Regions from separate parts of the Homo sapiens genome. Here region 2 is linked to region 1. Evidence: fine-mapped QTL for protein levels in blood plasma. A gene starts in region 1. The other region holds a variant in brackets. All regions are shown on one strand. Distances are from middle to middle.

Region 1 (2,926 bases):
ATATAAAGACTAACCAGTAGTGTTGTAACATTCAAACCAGAGGCTTTCATCAAACATTTCAGGAACCCACATGACCTCCATTAAGTGATTTGCCATTGTAAAGTGAGGACACTTAACCTACTGTTTGCGTTGGAGAACATCTCAATGGGCTCAAAGATGTTCAAGGGCAGAATAAATTTCTCAAAATGCTTGTTGCCAAGTCCTAGGAAAATACCAGTAATTAACACATACAGAGGACTCACTGTGTGCTGTACTGTGTGTTCAACATGGTATACGTGAAATGAACTATCTTGCTAAGACAGTGTTCTCATCTATAAAACAGGGCCTGTAATAGTACATTTCTCTATGTTAGGGGAATTCATTATGATAACAAAAGTAAAGTTCTTAACATGCTGGGCATCTCATAAACGTTAGTTAAATATAGTTATTATGACTATTATCTCATTTAATTCTCATAGCAACTCTATGAAGTAGGTAGCATTATATTATCCATTTTACAAATAAGCAAGGTAAGGCTAAAAGAGGACTCGCCCAACCAAATATATAGAAAGTAGTGGAGCCCATATTTTAAACTAGTCTATTTCCAAAGGCTATGTTCTTCCCCACTGTAATACTCCTTCAGTATGACCCTGGGCCAGCTTTTATAGGGACATCCCCAGGGAGATTTATATAATTTGGTCTAGACTTCTGTTTTGAAAAGTTTATAATTTAAATAAATGTTTTAATAGCCTATAAGGTTTCACAATCGTATTAATAATGATCAATTCAACAGCAGTTGATTTGGATGATATTAAATATTAAACATAGCATATTAATACAGCCAATTATATGTCACTAGATTACTGATCTATTCCTTCTCAAAAAGAAGAGTCACAGAGACTAGACTTTCACATTAGGAACTTAATAAACAAATTTGTAATTCAATAGTTAAGAAATTATGAGACTTTCACATTAGGCACTAATTGCAATAATAAACAAATTTGTCATTCCATAATTAAGAGTCTCATGTCCATACAAAAAAAAGAATAAAATAAATCAAATCCTAGAGGAATAAGCCATAATTTAAACAGATACATTTATGCAGGTGAATATGCAACAAATATCTAAGCCTTTAAAAATGCATCACTTGGGATAAAGAAAAAATCTAATAATTCAAATAACAATTTTGTTCAGCAGAAGTTCTACTTACAGTTTCCTCAGAAATAGTTAGGATTCTGTTTCTCTGGCTGGTTAGTATTTTGGTCAATGTTGTATTGACTTCTTATATACAAAACCTTCAACAATGGTCAGATTCCTCATCCACTGATTACATTACCAAAAAGACTTACTATCTGGGCATCATCTAATGTTAACAGGACAAAACTAAAAATTAAATATTGCATTCATTTTCACATAATACTGAGTGCTCACCTTTAACTTTTAACAAAGACAAATATTGGCCAAAGTAGTTCTGAGGATTAAAATGATTTAGGAACCATTAAAAATAATCCTTGATAGCCTAAACATATAAACGTTTTTGAGCCAAAGGTATAATGCAAATGATTATATAGTTTGGCTCAGATAGAGAGGCATAAAATGACAAAAGGCCACCTGTTATTCTTTAAAAATGCAGCGCATAAGCTATTTTGACTAGATGGTTAGATAAGTGAATGTGTTCAGCAAAGATTAATATTTTATTATGGTCTTTGACCAGGGTCTCAAATCCTACAGATAATGGTCTAGCTATCATACAAAACCCAGCCCTTGACCTTTAAGAACATATTTTTGGTGTCTTTTTCCTTCTAAGAAATCTAGGCTTAATACCTGGACGATGAAACAATCTGTACAACAAATCTCCAGGACACAGGTTTACCTATGTAACAAACCTGCACTTGTACCCCTAAACTTAAAATAAAAGTTAAAAAAAAGGAAACAAAAAAATCTATGGGTTATAGTTTGAACAATATGAATGTGTTTATTAAAAGTATATATTAAATTATGTTTTAAAATACAGTTGATCCTTTACAACCATCATGAGCATCTGTTGCTCGTGGGATACATGTGCGGAATGTGCAGGTTTGCTGCATAGTATACATGCGCCATGGTGGTTTGCTGCACCAATCCACCCATCATCTACATTAGGTATTTCTCCTAGTGCTATCCCTCCCATTGTCCCCTAGCCCCTGGCAGGCCCTGGTGTGTGACGTTCCCTTCCCTGTGTCCATGTGTTCTCATTGTTCAACTCCCACTTATGAATGAGAACATGCGGTGTTTGGTTTTCTCTTCCTGTGTTAGTTTGCTGAGAATGATGCTTTCCAGCTTTATCCATGTCCCTGTGAAGGACATGAACTCATCCTTTTTCATGGCTGCATAGTATTCCATGGTGTATATGTGCCACATTTTCTTTATCCAGTCTATTATTGATGGGCATTTGGGTTGGTTCCAAGTCTTTGCTATTGTGAATAGTGCTGCAATAAACATATGTGTGCATGTGTTCCCTACAGTGGAATGATTTACAATCCTTGGGGTATATACCCAGTAATGGGATTGCTGGGTCAAATGGTATTTCTGGTTCTAGATCCTTGAGGAATTGCCACACTGTCTTCCACAATGGTTGAACTAATTTACACTCCCACCAACAGTGAAAAAGCGTTCCTATTTCTCCACATCCTCTCCAGCATCTGTTATTTCCTGACTTTTTAATGATCGCCATTCTAACTGGAGTGAGATGGTATCTCATTGTGGTTTTGATTTGCATTTCTCTAATGACCAGTGATGATGAGCTTTTTTTTCATATGTTTGTTGGTGGCATAACTGTCTTCTTTTGAGAAATGTCTGTTCATATCCTTCAACCACTTTTTGATGGGGTTGTTTTTTTCTTGTAAATTTGTTTAAGTTCCTTGTAGATTCTGGATATTAGCCCTTCGTCAAATGGATAGATTGTAAA
Region 2 (2,926 bases), 27 kb before region 1:
CTTTTAGTTATTTTTAAATGTACATTAAATTATCATTGACTAGTAATTCTATTGTGCTATCAAATACTCTATCTTATTTATTCTATATTTGTGCCCAGTAAGCATCTCCACTTCACTCCCCTCCCCCGCAACACAAAAAAAACCCTTCCCAGACTCTGGTAACCAACATTCTAGTCTCTATCTCCATGAATTCAGTTGTTTTAATTTTTAGCTCCCACAAACAAGTGAGAACATGAGAAGTTTATCTTTCTGTGTCTGGCTTATTTCACTTATGACATGACATCCAATTCCATCCAGGTTGTTGCAAATGACAAGATTAGCTACTCTCTGTTTTTGATTGGAGAGTCTAGTCCATTTACATTCAATGTTATTATTGATAAGTGAAGACTTACTCCTGCTATTTTGTTAGTTGTTTTCTGATTGTTTTGTGGTCTTCTCTTCCTTGTTTCCTTCCTTCCTGTCTTCCTTTTAATGATTTTCTCTGGTGATATGTATTAATCTATTGCTTTTTTTTTTGAGATGGAGTCTCAATCTGTCACCCAGGCTTGAGTGGTGCAGTGGCACCATCTCAACTCACTGCAACCTGCAACCTCCACCTCCCAGGTTCAATCGATTCTCCTGCCTCAGCCTCCCAAGTAGCTGGGATTACAGGCACTCATCACCACACCTGGCTAATTTTTGTATTTTTAGTAGAGATAGGTTTCACCATTTTGGCCAGGCTGATCTTGAACTTCTGACCTCAAGTAATCCTCCTGCCTCAGCCTCCTAAAGTGCTGGGATTATTGAGCCATCACACCCAGCCAATGTATTGCTTTTTTATTGTTTGTGGAACTGTTGTATGTTTTTTTATTTGAGGTTTCTACGACGCTTGCAAATAATATAACCCATTATTTTCAACTGATGACAACTTAACACTGATTGCATAAACAAGCAAAGAGAAAACTAACAAAAATTCTACACTTTAACTTCATCCCGCTTTTAAACTTTTAGTTGTTTCTATTTATATCTTATTGTACTGTATATTTCTTGAAAATTACTTGTCGTTATTATTTTTGATTGGTTCTTTTAGCCTTTCTACTTGTGAACAGTTTACACACCACAATTACAGTATTATAATATTCTGTTTTTCTGTGTACTTACTATTACCAGTGAGTTTTGTACCTTCAGATTTCTTATTGCTCATTAATGTCCTTTTCTTTCAAATTGAAGAACTCTCTTTAGCATTTCTTATAGGACAGGTCTGCTGTTAATGAAATGCCTCAGCTTTTGTTTGTCTGGGAAAGTCTTTATTTCTCCTACATGTTTGAAGGATATTTTCACCAGATATACTATTCTAGGGTAAAAGGTGTTTTTTTTTTTTTTTTCCTTCAGCGCTTTAAATATGTCATGCCACTTTCTCCCGACCTGAAAGGTTTCCACTGAAAAGTCTTCTGCCAGACATACTGGAGCTCCCTTGAATGTTCTCTCTCTCTCTCTCTTTCTCTCTCCCTCTCTCCCTCCCTCTCTTACTGCTTTTAGGATCCTTTCTTTATCCTAGACCTTTGGGAGTTTGATTATTAAGTCTTCTTT[G/T]GGATAAGTCTGCTTGGTATTCTATAGGCTTCTTGTACATGAACATTGATAACTGTCTCTAGCTTTGGGAAGTTCTCTTATATCCCTTTGAATAAACTTTCTACCCCTATCTCTCTCTCTACCTCCTTTTTACGGCCAGTGACTCTTATATTTGCGCTTTGAAGCTATTTTCTAGATTTTGTAGGTGTGCTTTTGTGCTTTGTTCTTTTTCATTCTTTTTTCTCTGACTGTATTTTCTTTCTTTCTTTCTTTTTTTTTTTTTTTTGAGACGGAGTCTTGCTCTGTCGCCCAGGTTGGAGTGCAGTGGCATGATCTCAGCTCATTGCAACCTCCGCCTCCCAGGTTCAAGCGATTCTCCTGCCTCAGCCTCCTGAGTAGCTGGGATTACAGGCACCCGCCACTACGCTTGGCTAATTTTTTTGTATTTCTTTTAGTAGAGATGGGGTTTCACCATGTTAGTCAGGCAAAGTGCTTGGATTACAGGCGTGAGCCACCATGCTCCACCCTCTGGCTGCATTTTCAAATAGCCTGTCTTCAAGCTTACTAATTCTTTCTACTGCTTGTTCAATTCTGCTAAGAGACTCTCATGCATTCTTCAGTATGTCGATTGCATTTTTCAATTCCAGAATTTCTGCTTGATTCTTTGTAATTATTTCAATCTCTTTGTTAAATTTATCTGATAGAGTCCTGAATTCCTTCTCTGTGTTGTCTTGAATTTCTGTGAGTTTCCTCAAAACAGCTATTCTGAAGTTTATATCTGAAAGGTCACATTTCTCTGTCTCTCTGGGGTTGGTCCCTGGTGGCTTATTTAGTTTACTTGGTGAGGTCATATTTTCCTAGACGGTCTTGATGTTTGCAGACGTTTGTCAGTGTCTGGGCATTTAAGAGTTATGTATTTGTTGTAGTCTTCACAGTCTGGGCTTGTTTGTACCCACCCTTATTGGAAGGCTTTCTAGGTATTCAAAGGGACTTGAGTGCTGTGATCTAAGTTCTTGGTCACTGCAGCCATATCTGCGTTAGGAGGCACCCTTAGCCCAGTAACACTGTAGCTCTTGCAGACTTATAGAGGTACCACCTTGGTGGTTTTGGATAAGATCCAGAAGAATTCTCTGGATTACCAGGCAGAGTATCTTGTTCTTTTCCCTTACTTTCCCCTAAACAAATGGAGGGTCTGTCTCTGTGCTGAGCTTCCTGAAGTTGAGGGGTGGGTAATACAAGCACTACCCTGTAGCCACTGCCACTGGGACTGTGCTGGGTCAGACCTGAAGCCAGCACAGCACTGAGTCTCGCCCAAGGCCTGCTGTAACCATTACCTGGCTGCCGCCTATGTTTATTCATGGCCCTAGGGCTCTACGAT

Alleles and levels. Positions count from the first base shown, and alleles are read on the strand shown. Strength reflects both the effect of a copy and how common the allele is.
In carriers of allele T in region 2, the plasma level of the protein whose gene starts at base 1,239 in region 1 tends to be lower than with G alone (moderate association).

What was found. A credible set is the group of variants that fine-mapping cannot tell apart. PIP is the chance, under the fine-mapping model, that this variant and not a neighbour inherited with it causes the effect. Protein levels are from antibody-based Olink assays in UK Biobank. Linkage for the fine-mapping came from a reference panel and not from the study's own genotypes, which makes the PIPs less certain.
Region 2: its variant is the best candidate, but not a certain one, in a credible set for the plasma level of the LIPF protein (UK Biobank, PIP 0.57).

What each region holds. Positions count from the first base shown.
Region 1 is chr10:88,662,755-88,665,680 of GRCh38, reverse strand. LIPF (lipase F, gastric type) reads right to left here and starts at 1,239. Exons shown (of 10, transcript NM_004190.4): 1 at 1,190-1,239.
Region 2 is chr10:88,689,605-88,692,530 of GRCh38, reverse strand. No RefSeq gene overlaps it. Among named protein-coding and RNA genes, the nearest start is that of LIPK, 15 kb to the left of the region's middle. The variant G/T (reference allele first, on the strand shown) is at 1,570.